2 separate regions of the Homo sapiens genome follow, and region 1 is linked to region 2. A link means that fine-mapping ties the variant in region 2 to the expression of a gene that starts in the linked region. Tissue or cell type: blood mononuclear cells. Region 2 holds a variant in brackets; the other region holds the start of a gene. All regions are shown on one strand. Distances are between the middles of the regions.

The links. PIP is the estimated chance that this variant, and not a neighbour inherited with it, causes the effect.
Region 1: PCID2 starts here. The variant in region 2 is fine-mapped to the expression of PCID2 in blood mononuclear cells (TOPMed, PIP above 0.99).

What each region holds. Positions count from the first base shown.
Region 1 is chr13:113,204,345-113,212,447 of GRCh38, forward strand. PCID2 (PCI domain containing 2) reads right to left here and starts at 4,325. Exons shown (of 14, transcript NM_001127202.4): 1 at 4,255-4,325. The coding sequence starts at 4,290. CUL4A (cullin 4A) reads left to right here and starts at 5,269. Exons shown (of 20, transcript NM_001008895.4): 1 at 5,269-5,431; 2 at 5,629-5,744. The coding sequence starts at 5,284. RefSeq lists enhancers at 3,380-4,030, 4,031-4,680 and silencers at 4,215-4,504, 4,765-5,034, 5,135-5,464, 5,525-5,764.
Region 2 is chr13:113,172,896-113,180,998 of GRCh38, forward strand. It overlaps PCID2 (PCI domain containing 2), which reads right to left. Exons shown (of 14, transcript NM_001127202.4): 11 at 7,263-7,336; 12 at 7,022-7,147; 13 at 6,071-6,194; 14 at 4,641-5,392. The coding sequence ends at 5,303. Among named protein-coding and RNA genes, the nearest start is that of PROZ, 18 kb to the left of the region's middle. RefSeq lists an enhancer at 1-390. The variant G/C (reference allele first, on the strand shown) is at 3,694.

The sequences.
Region 1 (8,103 bases), 31 kb after region 2:
GCACTGTGGAATGGAAGCATACTTCAATGACTAAACACACTGGGGACACAGTGGTCACGAAGGGATCAAACCCTGGAGTACAGACACCGGGGCCCTCCAAGGAGAGGCGGAGACCCCTGCTGGGGGCACTCACTGGTAGCCCTCCTTTGCCTGTGACCTCCCAGGGTGGTCCCTGCACATATGCAGGGTGATGTCGCCACATCCTGGGCTCTGCTTGGCCACACCTACCTGGGCTGCACCCAGTGTCCCACGGGTGACCTGACCAGAGGAGGGCTCAGTGCCACAGGGCCTTGAGCCCAAGGAGGGCCCCAGCTTGCTTGGCAGGCATGAATGTGTCCCAGGGGTGGTCCTATCAATGCCCCTGCCTCAATGACTAAACTGTGAGAAGACTGGGGATGTGAAGAGGAAAAGCAGGGATGGCAACGGACGGTACTTGCAAGCCCTAAAGGTGCGACTGGCGCCGCAGTGGACACAGGACCCCTAGCAGCCCAGCCACCTGGCCAACTCTTAACAGCTCATGCTGCAGAGCCTTCAGCCCTCAATGGGACCACACAACCAGACTCCAAGTGAGCACCTTCTGAGCGGCACCCCCAGGCCTGGCTCACCAGGGGATGCTCCCTGGCTCTGGCCCCAGGAAGACTTCCTTGTGGTTGCTGCATGCCCCTCACGCCCTCCAGTCTGGTCCACAGGAGGCACCATCTACTCTTGGAACTCATAACTCTTTTAAAAATTCAAAATCATTACAGGTCATGAACCTCTGAAGTCACTTCTGAATAGTCAAACTTTCCAATTCCATAAACTCTTGAAAGACAATATGAAGAACTACTGAAGATTAAGGAGTAAAGTATCTAACTCAAAGCTGATTCCCTAAATAAAGATGTTCACTACACCTGTAAAAAAGAGAGGTGTTCTTGGCAAAAGGAACATAATGAAGAAAATCTTTGGGACAAGAAAGATCATGGGGTGCCACAAGAAGATACCACTCCGCACCCAGCAGGATGGCCATAATAAAAAGAATGGAAAAAAACAAGCATTGACAAGAAAGTGAAGAAATTGCAACCCTCATACATTGCTGGTGAAAATGTAAAATGATGCAGCTAGCTGCTTTGGCATTTCTTTAACAAGTTAAACACAGAATTACCATATGACTCAGCAATTCCACTCTTAGGTATATGCCAAAAAGAATACAAAACCTGCGCAAGAATGTTCACAGCAGCAGCACAACAGCCAAAAAGAGGAAACAACTGAAGTGGTCCATCAACTGATGAATGGATAAACAAAATACTCCATACAATGGAATATCATTAGCCATAAAAAAGAACGACACACTGACACATGTTCCAACACAGATGAACCCTGAAAACATGATGCAAGGGAAAGACACACAAAAGCCACATACTGAAATCACCAGAGTCAGCAAATCCATACAGACAGAGAGCACATTAGCGGTTGACAAGCGCTCGGGAGGGAGGACCAGGGAGTGACTGCTTAATGCTTATGACATTTCCATTTGGGGTGACAAAAAATTCTGGATAATGGTGATGGTTGTGCAATATTGTGAATGTACTTAATTGTGTACTTTAAAATGGTTAAATGGTATATTTTAAGTTATGAGTACTTCGGTGGGGCAATGGTGCATTCAGCATAAGTGAAATAAACCTTCAGACTGGTGATGCCAAGTTAACAGGTAAACATGGACCAGATGATGTGCTAAAGCATTTGGAACTTTCCCTGGAGGAAACAGAGAGTCAATGAAGTTTTAGTAACAGAGGCAGATGCTCAACTCTTCTTCAATAAAATACCAGAACTATCATTTACTAAGTAAATGCATTTACTGTGAATTCATGGTCTTTTTAATTCTCACAACTTATGTGAAGCCTGTTTAGAGATGGAGAGTCACAGAAGTTAGATAACTTGTCATGGTCCCAGAATTAGTAAAAATGCCAGGATTTGGGCTGAAGTCTTATTGTCTTTAAAGTCTATGGTCTCTTTGCTGTGTCTCACTTGGAAAGGGCAAAGTAAAGGAAACCATCAACCAGTACCTGCAGCAGGGCGTCCTGGCTGGGGAGCATGTGGCAACAGATAAAGAAGGGATGGATCTGAGAGACTTCGGAGATACATCCAATTAGGTAAAGGACTATTTGCTGAGACTAAAGGAGGAGTCAATGATTTCCCCCAACTTCCTAGCTTTGATGAATGTGCAAATGATGGTTTTATTCCCAAAGAGATACAGTGACATTGGCACTTATGTTCCTATACAACAAATCAAACATGTGTTACCATGTATAACCGGTTGCCATTCTGTATCGAAGAGGCACCTATTTTCTTAAAATATTCAAGAATCTGTTAATACATAAAACTTAGGTAACATGCCAGTTCAACCAGAAATATTTTTATCCATCAGAATTAGGAGGAAGCGGACTTTTTGCTGTCTCACCCCAGTGGCTACACTGCCCTTTGCGGAGATGTAGGCATGCACATCTCCATAGAAGTCCATCCTGGGCCCAGCCCCTGTCTACTCTCTCTACTTGTTCCCTGGGTCACCCCTTCCCTTCTCAGTCTTTCCCATCATGTGACTACGAAGGAGTCTCAGGTTTGTATCTTTAACCCAAATCTGTCTGTTTAAACTTCAGTTTACACACATAGAGTAGAAGCTCGCTTATCAGTCTCACTTTAACTGACTTGAATTGGAAAAATGACTCTCTCCAATCCCTCCCTGAAATACACGAGCTGATGCCCAAGGTATGATGACGACTTTCAGCAAGTAGGCTTCACTCTAATACATCGCAAGCTTTTGCCAGCTAAGTTGTATGTGTTCTCATATCCAGATGTGTTTGTTCTCAAATCTATTTTTGCTACCCGAACCTGTTATGGTAGTTATGTACTTTTAAGCTCATCAATGAAATATGAATGCAAAAGGAAACAGTTGTTTCTCTATAAGCTAAGTTGTATGTTTTTAAAAGGCTCACTTGAGTTTGTTAAAAAAATAATTAGGTATGGGGGAAAAATTGTAAAAGATTAAGAAAATTCTAAAGATAATCGTATCAAATTGGTTCTTAAATGCCTATATCCTTGTTTAACTTTAAATAAACTGATATTGGAAAATGTTAAGTCTGCTAAGATTAGGCCAAAACAGACACAGCCTAAAGAAAAGGCCCTGGGCTTACATCAAAAGATTGGCAAGTATAGAACTTGAGGTAAGTGGTGTAAAAAAAAAATTGGCAAGTGAATGTATACTTTCATGTTTTAAGTTAAAAACATACATCCATTTCTTCGTGATTCCTGTTTTAACCAGTTTTCTCAATTAACCAAGCAACTGCTGGGCCCAATCATGTCAGACTTTTCAGCTATCAAGTACGTATCTTTACCCAGTTGTCAACAGACACCTCAAACTCAACATGCCCAAAACTTTATTTCTCCCTCCAAATCCACTCTATTCATCTTTTTCCCAGATTACAAGCCTGGGAATCATTCTTAACTCCTCCGTGTCCCTCAGCCCACCCATTCTTATTCACCACGTCTTGGTAATGTTTCCTTCAAATATTTTAAAAATCCATTCCCTATATTTCCTATCCCTGTTACCACAGTGCTGGTTCTGAAGACAGGCATAGTTTAGTGGAAAGAATATGCGTTGAATCTTTACAAGTGTCCATCTTTTAACTGTGCTTCTGCTACTTACAAGCTGTTGAACAACATCTGTCAGACGCATGTACCGAGCGATATGAAGTGTGCATTGTGCTCGGAGAGTGAAGGGCGTTAAACGACAGCGAGGACGAGGGGCACGAGCCCGGCCTGCAGCACGGCCACAGCCTCGCGCTTACTCCTCCATCGCCTCCTGGAGTCCCCGAATTCATCCCGCATCCTGCTGGGAAACAGCGTCCATCCGACACAGCACCGCCCACAGCGGGCCCTCGGCGTGGCCCGCAGGCCCTTCGGACCGCCTGGGAGCGCGGCCACACGTGCCAGCAAGTGAGGGCAGCGACCTGGGACCGCCGCGTCTACTTACACCGCGACGACTCCGCGATCCACGGACACCGCCCGGCCCCCACGGCGGCCCTGCAGGGGAGAACTCGGGCCGCCTTCCCGAGTCCCGGCCGCCGCTGTTCGGCTCGCGCGGCTGCCCGCCGGGGACCCGAACGGAAGAAGGGTGGCGAGGCGGGAAAGGAAAAGGCCTGAGGGTCCAAGGCAGGAGGGGACACACGGAACACGCCGAGGGCCAACCACGCCGCCGCGCGCTCCCCGGCTAGGACCCACCTGCTGCAGGTACTGGTTAATGGTAATGTGCGCCATGGGAGCGCCGCCGAACGGAGAGCGCCACCCCCTACGCCTCAAGCGGGCCAGCTGGCGTCACTTCCGGCCCTCGGTCCGTCTGGGTCCTGGCGCCCCCGGCCCCGCCGCGGGTGCGCAGGTTGGTTCCGGAGGGAGAACCTGGGGACCGGCTCGGCGACGCGCTCGGGCTGAGGGGGCCCGGGGTCTTTCTGCCGGGGCCCCGTCCTCTCAGCCGGGACGCCAGCGGCTCTGATTGTGTGTTCGGGCCCGCCCGGGCTGAGGGGTTTGGGGTCCAGTGGCGAGGACAGCCCCACGGCTAAACTGCCTTTCACTGCGCTGACCCTTCGTCTGCCCCTTGTGAAAACCAGGCCGCGGAGGACCCTCCGCGCCTGGCTGGGCCAGGGCCTCGGGGCGCGCGCGCCCGAGGAGGGGGAGGGGGAGGGACATGGCGCGCGCTCCCGAGCTCTCATAAGGTGCCTCCGCCGCGCGCTCCCGAGCCTGCAGGAGTTAGGGCACGTCCCGGCGCGCACCCCTGAGCCCTCGAGGTGGTCTCACGCCCGGGGTGGGGGTGCCGAGCCCTCAGGAGGCGCGCGCCCCGGGGCCCTCAGGAGGGTGTCCCGGCTCCCGATCCCCTCAGGAGGGGTGCCCGCGGCACGCATCCCCGAGCCAGGAGGGGGTGCCCGGAGCCCTGGGGGCAGGGTCTCGGTGCGCCCCCCGGAGCCGGGGGTGAGGGTCCCGATCCCTCAGGACGGGAGTCCCGGCGCGCGCCCTCGAGCCAGGAGGGGGTGTCCGAATCTCTTAGGGGGAGTCCGATCCCTCAGGAGGGATTCCCGGCGCGCGTTCCTAAGCCCTCAGGAGTAGCCGGGCGCGGCGGCGGTTGGGCTCGGGCACGCGGGCGGGGCGGGGCGGGGCGCGCGAGGAGGACGGGGCGGAGGCCGCGCGGACCGGGGCGGGCGGAGCGGAGCTCGGCGGGCGGCGGCGCTCGGGGCGGGGCGCGGCGGTTCCGGCCCAGCCATGGCGGACGAGGCCCCGCGGAAGGGCAGCTTCTCGGCGCTCGTGGGCCGCACCAACGGCCTCACCAAGCCCGCGGCCCTGGCCGCCGCGCCCGCCAAGCCGGGGGGCGCGGGCGGCTCCAAGAAGCTGGTCATCAAGAACTTCCGAGGTGGGTGCGGCGGCCGGGTCGAGGGCCAGGCGCCCCGGGCGGGGACCCCACGAGACCCCGCCCGACTTGGGGGGAAGGCCCCGAGATCCGTGCGGGCCCCGGGAGCGGGGGCGCCGGGGCGCCGGCCGGGTCGGGGGTGGCTACGCGGGGCGCTTCGCGGCGCGCCCTGAGCCGCCCGCTCTCCCTCCGCCCTGCAGACAGACCTCGGCTGCCCGACAACTACACGCAGGACACGTGGCGGAAGCTGCACGAGGCGGTGCGGGCCGTGCAGAGCAGCACCTCCATCAGGTACAACCTCGAGGAGCTCTACCAGGTGAGGCGGCGGCCGGGGCTGGGGACGCCGCTCCTGCCCCGCGTGACGCAGACGCGGCCGGGCGGCCGCTCCGGGTGCCTCGCAGGCTCTCGCCGGGGAGCGGAAAGGCAGGGCGTTTGCCTCCACTGCAGGGCCGGGAGCCCCAGAGGCAACAAGTGGTTTTGTTTATTGCCGTGGTGGAATTTTTGTTTTCAGGCTTAAGCTGCTTAGAACCATATTTAAAGTTATCCCATTACGGAAGAGAAGGAGGTGTGTTTCTAGGAGCCACGTGACTCATATTTTGCAAGTATACGGCAAATTATTTTCTCGTTATATGTAAAACTCATGACTGTGTCACTTGCCACAGTAATAAGAGGGTCTTTTCTCTGTTGTGTTTTGTGATTAATGGTTGCCTTTAAGATATTCAAACAGATTTTGAAAAAATTCAAAATTCAGAAAAAGTGGTTTTGTTCTCTGTTGTGTTTTGTGATTAGTGGTTGCCTTTAAGGTATTCAAACAGATTTGGTAGCATTTAATTCAAAGTGATGGTGTTCCGTTTCTGAAGTAACAAAAAAGTACATTTTACCATACTTGGATATTTTATTTATAAGCGACTTTTTTTCTGGTGTCTTCTTTTTGTAAAGTAACATTCATTCAGTAGTCTAATATCTATATTTTAGGTCACGATGTGTCATACAATTATTTCTATTAAAAGGCTTGAATTAAAAAAACTTTTTTTCTGGATATGCAAGTGACTGCATTGTAAAAATTATAAAAAATACAAAAAAGAAGACTTCAATCACCTATACTCCTACCACCCAAAGAAAACTACTGTTGACAGTTTGGTGTACATACATCCATTCTTTGTCTGAAGTGTAAGTGGATGATGTTTTCTTACCAGCTTTGAGATAGAGTCTACATATAATGTGCACTTCAGGAAGTTTTAACAGATGCATGCAGTTACGTAACCGGCACCACGGTCAAGATGGAATCTTTCTTGGTAGAATGGTAGAATATTGCTACCACCCCCGAAATTGCCATGACCACTTTTGCAGTCAGCCCTCTCCCCTGACTCCTAGCCCTTGGCGGTCCCCCATTTGCTTTCTGTTACTATATTTTGCGATTTCTAGAACCTTATCTAAATGCAGTCATGTATTTCATAGTCTTTTGTATCTGGCTTTCACTTAGGACAGTGCTTTTGAGATTCATGCACAACGCAGTGTGATTGTAATTTATTACCTAGTAGAATGGGTATACCACAGTTGTTTTATCCATTCACCAGTTAATGGACATTTGGGTGTCCATGTTTGGGGTTTTTTGTTTGTTTGTTCTTTGAGACGGAGTTTCACTCTTGTGGCCCAGGCTGGAGTGCCATGGCACGATCTTGGCTCACTGCAACCTCCACCTCGCAGGTTCAAGCGATTCTCCTGCCTCAGCCTCCCGAGTCGCTGGGATTACAGGCACCTGCCACCACGCCTGGCTAATTTTTGTATTTTTAGTAGAGTCGGGGTTTCGCCATGTTGGGCAGGCTGGTCTCAAACTCCTGACCTCAGGTGATCCACCCACCTCGGTCTCTCAAAGTGCTGGGTTTACCAGCATAAGCCACCGCGCCTGGCCTTGGGTTGTTTTAAATAAAGCTGCTGTAAACATTTGTGAATAACCCTTTGTTTGGACATATATTCTTACTCCTCTCAGGTGAGTTCTGCTTACTTCTTTATCTAGAAGTAAGTTCTCAGGGTCATATGGAAAATGTATGTTTAACTTTGTACGGAATTTCTTGTTTTTGCAAGTGACTGCCCCTTTTGCGTCTCTCCCAGCAGTGTATGGGAGCTCCGGTTCCACTCCGCCACCAGCGTGTGCGTCTCTCCCAGCAGTGTATGGGAGCTCCAGTTCCACTCCGCCACCAGCGTGTGGTGTCCTCAGTCTGTAACTTTAGCTGTGCTTGTGGGTGTGTGGTGGAGTGTCATTGTAGTTTTAGTTTGCATTTCCCTCTGATGCTAAGCATCTTTGTATTTACTTGCCATTCTATGTATCTTCGTTGACGAAGTGTCTATTTAAATATTTTGCTCATTTTTATTGGGTTGGTTATTTTCTTATTATTGAGTATTTGAGTTTATTATGTATTCTGGATACAAGTCCTGTATCAGATATTCGCCTTGCAAATACTTTCTGCCTAGTCTTCAACTTGTCTTTTGATTCTCTTAACTGTGCCATTTGAAGAGTAATTGTTTTAAGTTTTCAAGTCACATGTATCAGTTTGTTCTTCTATGGATTGTGCTTTTAGTATCCAAGAAATCTTGCTTAATCTGAGGTCACAAAGTTTTCTCTTATACTTTCTTCCAGACATTTTAGAGTTTTAGGTTTTACATCTAGGTCTACG
Region 2 (8,103 bases):
AGGGCAACGCCCAGCACTGTTGTGGCTGGAGTGTGTGTCCCTTCAAAACTCCAAAATTGGAACTTACCCCAAGATGATGATATGGGGAGGTGGGGCCCTTGGGAGGTGACTAGGCCATGAGGGCTCTGCCAGCCCCTTCCATCTCTTCTCCCATACGAGGACACTGCAGTGAGGTGCTACCCTGGAGACAGAGAGCCCTCAGCAGACACCAAATCTGCCGGCACCCAGATCTTGAACTTCCCAGCCCCCAGATCTGTGAGAAATGAGTTTCTGTTATCACCCAGTCCATGGTATTTTGTAGAACAGACCAGGACAGCACGTGCTGAATCACAGTAAACACCTGCTGTCATGAAGGCTGCAGCTGCAATGCAAGTACCAAAGACAGAGCTGCAGTCCAGCCCCCAGTGAAACGTCCTTGGAGACTGGAGCTCCTAGCAGGGTCTGAATTTGCACTGAAATGGACAGAAATGGCATAAATGTTCACATTTTAACTCTTAGTTAAGGAAGGGGCACAGCTGCTTCTCCACCAGTGTCCTTGAGTGACACAGAGCAGAGCATCGTTGAAGAGCAGAGAGGACTTTTAAAAAGAGGAATTAAAAATGTAGGTGGACAAATATTCTCTTGAGTTGAGAACAATTTACACATAACTTGGGTTTTTAAGCCTTACTGTTCTTCAGCACACTCTCTTTCATTTACGCTTTAACCCCAGAATTAAACTTTTCTCCAACCTGTAGATGAAATGGCCCATTTCTCTGAAAGGTCCTTGGCAAAAAGCAACACTGTAATTTAAGGCAAATTAATGGGGAGGGCAGTTTAAAATTCACTAGGGTGAATTTTAAAGTCTTAGTGAAGTTTGGTTGTATTATTCTCAAACTACAATAAGGTAAGTAAGTCACTGCTTTAAATGCCTACTAATGATTTTAAAATCAGCTAATGAACATGGCAGGCTTTCTGTACATAATGCTGCAGAAATGTCTGCAATCTTGCTTCTGGTACTTCTATTACAAATTTGGATTTACTAGAGTGGAAGCCCTGCTTGAAAACTATTCCAGTCCAGGCGCAGTAGCTCACGCCCGTAATCCCAGCACTTTGGGAGGCTGAGGCGGGCGGATCACGAGGTCAGGAGTTCGAGACCAGCCTGACCAACATGGTGAAACTCCATCTCTACTAAAAATACAAAAAAAAAAAAAATCTTTGCCAAGCGTGGTGGCTCACGCCTGTAATCCCAGCTACTGAGGAGGCTGAGGCAGGAGAATCACTTGAACCCGGGAGGCAGAGGTTGCAGTAAACCGAGATCATGCCACTGCACTCCAGCCTGGGCAACAGAGCGAGACTCCATCTCAAAAAAAAAAAAAAACCTACTTCAAACACAGCTGGGCAGAGGCAAAGCATATGAAGACCCTCCCTCCGTAATGGTGAAATCTGTGAAATCAGGAACAATCAGAGAAAGCTACAGGCCCAGACTGTCAGCAGAGACATGAGGGGCCTTCAAAATGAAGTAACTACTCTACTGGCATTTAATGACATGCTTAGAAACTACACCATAAACAAATCTAACAAAACAGTAAAACTCAAGAAAAGGGAAGCTAGCTATGATGACTGTTTTTCTTGTTTTTTGAGACAGGGTCTCTGTCTGCCACCCAAGGCTGGAGTGCAGGGCACGATCCTAGCTCATAGTGGGCTCAACTTCCTGGGCTCAATTGACCCTCCCACCTCAGCCTCCTGACTACAGGTGTGGACCACCATGCCCAGCTAATTTTTGTATTTTCTGCAGAGATGGATTTTGCCATATTGCCCAGGCTGGTCTCGAACTCCAGGGCTCAAGCAATCTACTGGCCTCAGCCTCCCAAAGTGCTGGTATCATAAATGTGAGCCACCACGTCCAGCCTGTGATGATGTTTTAAAAGGGCCAAACTAGTTCACACTTGGGCAGAGATTATTAAGTCCAATATTTGAATCCATGCAAACACACTGATACATGCCCATGTGTACGCCCGTGGACTTGAATGCTGCCATGCTGGACACAGGCCTTGACTTTGCGTCTCCACCCAAATTCCATCTTGAATTGTAATCCCCACGTGTGGAGAAGTGATTGGATCACGGGGGCGGCTCCCCCACGCTGTTCTCGTGACAGTGAGGGCGTCTAACGAGAGCTGATGGTTTTAAAAGTGGCAGTTTTGCTCATGCTCACTTCCCCTTCCGCCATGATTGTAAGTTTCCTGAGGTCCCCCGAGTCATGTGGAACTGTGAGTCCATTAAACCTCTTTCCTTTACATATTACCCAGTCTCGGGCAGTTCTTTATAGCAGCGTGAGAACGAACTGACAGAGGCCTGAACACCAAGAGGTAAACGTAAGGACACCTACACTGAGGTTGTTTCTTTCATCGCTAAGAATAACCATCCAATTACCTTAAAGTATCAATCCTTGACTTTAGGTGTCACTATGGACGGTTCAATACGTTACCCAGAAATGTTGACAAACCTGAGCTTTCCACCGCTATTACATCCAGAATGAAATTCAGGTATGCTGGCAGAAATTCCAATATTCAAATTACTGCAAGAAAATCATTTAAGTCAAAAGTTGAAGGATGTTCAAGGCCCATGCAGAGCAGCAGGGAAGATCAGATTTCCGTACCCAACACTGCAAGAGAACGGGGCCCCACTGGACACATGGGTAGCTAGAAAACAGATGCGCGCCCAAAGCCTCCGCCGGCATGAGTTTGCTCCGTGTCTGCCCCACAGGACATAGGAGGCACTTGTCACGACTGCCAGCGCTGAGGACCTTGCTGCTGCTGGGGAGCAGCTACGTAGGTCAAGAGGATCCTTGGCATGAACTCCACAGGCACAGGCGCTTGCCTTCGTGCATTCATCTCTCGCGTGTACGTGTGGCAGTCCACGGCTGGAATCCGGGTGTGACTTAGGAGAGCAGGGCATAAAAGAGATCTGGCTTCCCTGGCTCTACTGGGATCTGCGCTCCCAGAATCCAGCTCCCTACGTGTGGAGAGAAACAGGGGAGCCCACCCACAGCCCTGCTGAGCTCCAGGTGAGAGCCCGGGCCAATACACGGGAATGAGTCACCTTCAAAGAGGCCCATTCGGGCCCCAGAAGAGCCCACAAGCTTCCCCGCCCAGCCCGGAAGAAACTGCAGACCTGCAGATGTAGGAGCGAGCTAAGGAGTGCTGCTGAAGCCCTGGGGCAGCTCCTGCATCCAGGGGAACCTGAGGAAGGAGCCACACAAAGTGAGTCCTGCGCCGCGCGGCCCGGAGAGAGAGAAAGAGGGATTCACACTTTGTAGAATAGCCTCTCCTTGAACAAGCAGCTTTCAAATGCAGTAACTTTGCAAAGATGAGCTCTTATAGTTTGTGTTCTTCTTTAGTAAATTTTTTATAAACGGGGAAATGTGCATAGTCTGAAAAATGGCAGTGCTGGGGACTAAACTGTGTCCCCCAAATTTCTTACATTGAAGTCCTAGCCCCAGTGTGACTGTATCTGGAGGTAAGGTCTTCAGGGGGTAACTAAGGCTAAATGTGGTCATAAGGGTGAGGTCCTAACCCAACAGAACTGTGGCCTTATAAGAGGAAGAGAGCCGGGTGTGGTGGCACATGCCTGTCACCCCAGCACTTTGGGAGGCCGAGGTGGGGGAATTGCTTTAGCCCAGGCGTTCCAGACCAGCCTGTGCAATATTAGCAAGAC[G/C]CTGTCTCTACAAAAAATAAAAAAATTAGTTGGGTGTGGTGGCATGCACCTGTGCTCCCAGCTACTTGGGAGGCTGAGGAGGGAAGATCACTTGAGTCTCGGAGGTCGAGGCTGCAGTAAGCACTGACTGCACTGCCGCACTCCAGCCTGGGTGACAGAGTGAGGTCCTGTCTCAAAAAAGGAGGGAGAGAGTCATCTCTATCTGTACCATCTCTAGCACAGCAAGAATACCACCTTATTCTTAAGTGTGCAACTCAGAAGAGAGCCCTCCCCAGAAGCCGACCGTGCTGGCAACCCCATCTCAGTCAGACCTCCAGCCTCTAGAACTGTGAGGAAATACATTCCTGTTGCTTAAGCTGCCTGTGGTATTCTGTGATGGCAGCCCCAACAGCCCAATGTGAGTGGCCCAACTTAGCGACTGTCAACCTCGCCGTGGTGCCGAAGGGACGCGCTCAGGGGCAGCCATGCCTCAGCGTCCACGCAGCCCTTCAGTTTCCACTCTCAGTGTAGCACTCGGTAAGCTACACGAGGTATTTACACTTTTATTTTTATTTATTTATTTTTTTGAGACAGAGTTTCGCTCTTGTTGCCCAGGCTGGAGTGCAATGGCATGATCTCGGCTCACTGCAACCTTTGCCTCCCGGGTTCAAGCGATTCTCCTGCCTCAGCCTCCTGAGTAGCTGGAATTACAGGTATGCGCCACCACGCCCGGCTAATTTTGTATTTTTAGTAGAGACGGGGTTTCTCCATGTTGGTCAGGCTGGTCTCCAACTCTCAATCTCAGGTGATCTGCCTGCCTTGGCCTCTGAAAGTGCTGGGATTACAGGCGTGAGCCACCACGCCCGGCATCTACACTTTATTATAAAATAAAATCGGCTTTGTGTTTGATTTTGCCTAAGAGTGGAGGCTTCTGAGTATGTTAAGGAAGGCTAGAGTGAGCCATAATGTTTAGTAGCAGGTGTATTAAATGTATTTTCAATTTAAGATGGTTTTTTAAAAGAAATTTTTTTTTAACCAACAAAGCAAAGGCAAATAAAATAAGTTTATTGGGATGTAACCCTATCATAAATTGAGGAGCATCCATACAGGCAAGCTATAAAATCTGGAAAATTTAAATCAAATTAAATTCTGCTTTTAAAAAGGTGCCTTAAGTTAACCAAGCATTTTGATAACACATTCAAATTTAATATATAAAAATAGATGTATCCTGGAAGATATAATGAAGAACATGCCATGTGTATAAATTCAGAATACGCTTTTTACACAAAGAACTACAAAAAGTTACAAAGACAGCCTTCAGGAACCACACTTAGGAAAAGTGAGCCGAGCAGCCTTCACGCAAAGCCTCCTTCAAAGAAGTCTCACAAAGACTCCAGAACCAGCCGAGTCTGTGAAAAAGGAATTCCAGGTTTTCATCAGGCTGAAATTAGTTACAAATGAAGGAGATTAACTCGGGTGTGCTGAAAATCTCAGCCTCAGCATCCCTGGGAAAAGCGCCTCCAAGAGTTCCGGCTTCAGGGAGCCTTGTTGCAGTACCGGACCGGTCTCATCAGCACAACCAAAGTGGAAAGAAACAACTGCTCACCCGTCCTCGGGGCTCCGTGTACTTTCAACACACCGTGGACAGGGGAGGAAATGGGTTCTGCTTGCTGACCACCAGCTTCTGATGCTGATGCGATATGTAGCCTTTGACGTGTCCCTGCGGGGCAGAAAGGGAGGAATGCGTTTACATTTTTGGATCTGAGTCATGTCAAAGATGCTGGGTGATCTAATTAATTTGGCATTAGCATTCTTCCCCAAGAGCGGCACAGTTCAGTTCAGCGGGAAGACAATGAGTAAAAATAAATACAATCAACCCTCTATATCCACGGTGGGTTTCATATCCATGAATCTAACCAACTGTGGACTGAAAATATTTGGGGAAAAAAAATGCATCTGTAATGAACACGTACAGACGCTCTTCCCTTGCCGTGATTCCCTAAACAATACAGTACAACAGCTATCTACAGTGCACTGAGTATTTTAAGTAACCTAGAGATAATTTAAAGTATACAGGAGGACGTGCATAGCTCATATGCAAATACTACGTCCTATCAGTGACTGAAGCACCTGTGGATTTTGGTATCCGAGGGGGGTTGGAGAATCGACAGATACCGAGGGATGTACCGCCAGTAAAGAATATGCAAACATACAAGAGTATCCGTCCCCTCATGCTCCTAAGGCCCTGGTGAATGGTATTTCCTGGGCTAAAATTAGTTCTATCAAAAAAAAAGCAGAAGGCCTTTTAACAATTTTAACACCACCACACTGAAGCTTCAAATTCTGGGCTGAATCTTGCTGTGAGTAGCTGCTTAAATTAAAACCAGGACTCACACACCATGTATATCAAGTTAGCCAGAATACACTGAACTTCGTCAATGTCCACGTCCTCCACCTGCATGAACTTCAAGGCAACCAGAAAAGCATCCAGAGACAGCTGGTGTGTTTTCAGTAACAAATACCTGGAAGAGGGGAGGAGAAGGGCACTGTGGTTACCGACAGGATGCAATACTCCACAGCCAAGAAAAGGCACCTCTTAATAAGCCGGTGTTCTAAAGGAGTAAAAAAATTCCCACCTATTAGATAAACTCTAAACTACACTCTCAGAGCTATTAAATCTAATTTGACTTTTCAATCTTTAAAAAGTCACTAGTACAAACACAATTTTTAATTATTTTCTAAGTATTTCATTAAGGTTCGGTTTTTTTTTTCACATTTTAATCTCCCTGAAATCAGGAAGCACCTGACAATGGGCTGTGTCTCACAGACTCAGCGAAATAGGGTCCCTACTGTTTGTGACGTGCTACCCACAGCTCTATACAAAGTTGGCCTTTGCCTGAAGTTTACACAACTGAGATCCTGCTGGGACGAGGCCTCAGAAGACGTGTGAGGAAAGGAATGACGATCTCTGCATCTGCCTTTGTGACAGGCAGAAGTGGCTGGGAGGGCTACTTGGTCAGCACTAAGGGAGGGGAGTGAGTGGCGAGTCCTGTGTGCTCTGATGAAATGTGGTACCGCGGCTCTCAGGGCTGATGTTCTCAAGTTGTCTTCTCACATAGAACCTGCTTACCTCCCCCACAAGTCCAGGCACAGCTTGTGCTACTCACGTGTCTCGCGCAGGGTCCCCAGGAGGCAGTGGGCGGAGGCTTCATTTTATCCCACACAATGGAAGGAAGATAACGACCCCACCCACACGGTGGCCTTCTCTCTTAGACTGCAACAGCCCTGGATGTCTGACTGCTCTGCCGAGAGCCACACTGGGAGCCCAATGTGCCGGGGAAATGCTTACACTTTCTTAAAGAGGTTCCTGTAGGTGATGATCTTCAGCTTCTCCAGGATGAGGAAGATTCCGCAGCGAATGAAGAAGGCCTCGTGCTTCGCCAGCGCCTCGTGCAGCAGCAGCAGGTTGCCCTCGCTGGTGAGGGGGGAGGCGCGTCAGAAGGAGGGTGAGTTTCTCACAGAGCGTGCACGTCAACTCTCATCAGGCTTGCATTTTTAAAACCCCAAACAGGAAGGATGGCATACTCTACCTCACAGCTCTGGTTACTTCCGCAAACTGCATCAGGTGATACTTTTTCAGGAGCTCCACAGTGGGCATGTGACCCTAAGAGTCAATTTTCCAGAATGAAAATGCTTTCATTTTTGACAAAATTGTCCTTGATAAATATTCATATCAAGGAATTAAGTTTTAAGAAAATTGCAACCTGAGTTTCTTAGAATGTCCATGGATTAAACACATCATAGTACACTAGGAAAACAACACAGGTCTAGAAATCAGAACACCTGGGTACAACACACTTTTGTCATTCCATGACACGTGACCTTGATCTTGACCTTCTCACATTTCTTCGAATTTCTATAACAGGAGAGTGATAACTGAAGAAATGCTAGTATAAGCATGAGATGTAGGCATACGGAAGTAGCTTCCAGAAGAATCAGCTAAGCATTTGAAACTGGCTGTCAGTTAAATGGGGTGAGAAGTGAGGAGGGCAAGGCCACAGCAGCGCTTCTCCATCACAATCCATTCAGAGCTACAGAAGCTTTAGCCACCTGTGTGCAATGCTTTTCTCATTAGTCAATTAACTTACCAGTTATTTCAAGTATCAAAAATACATTTTAGTAACTAAATGAAATACCCACAGAGAGGGTGAAATGACATTTTTCTTTCTTGGTGAATCCACTGCTTTTAACTTAGGTTTTAAGGGAGGAATACAAATGATACGTACTTATTTTGTCACATGAACGTTAAACTCTTGAGTTAAATACTTTTAAGGGAAACAAGACACAGGGAGAGCTTTTCTAGAAGGACCTGGAGGCGTAAGGCATGAAGCTCTGGGTTTGGGCCACACACAATGCATGCGCCTTCTTTAT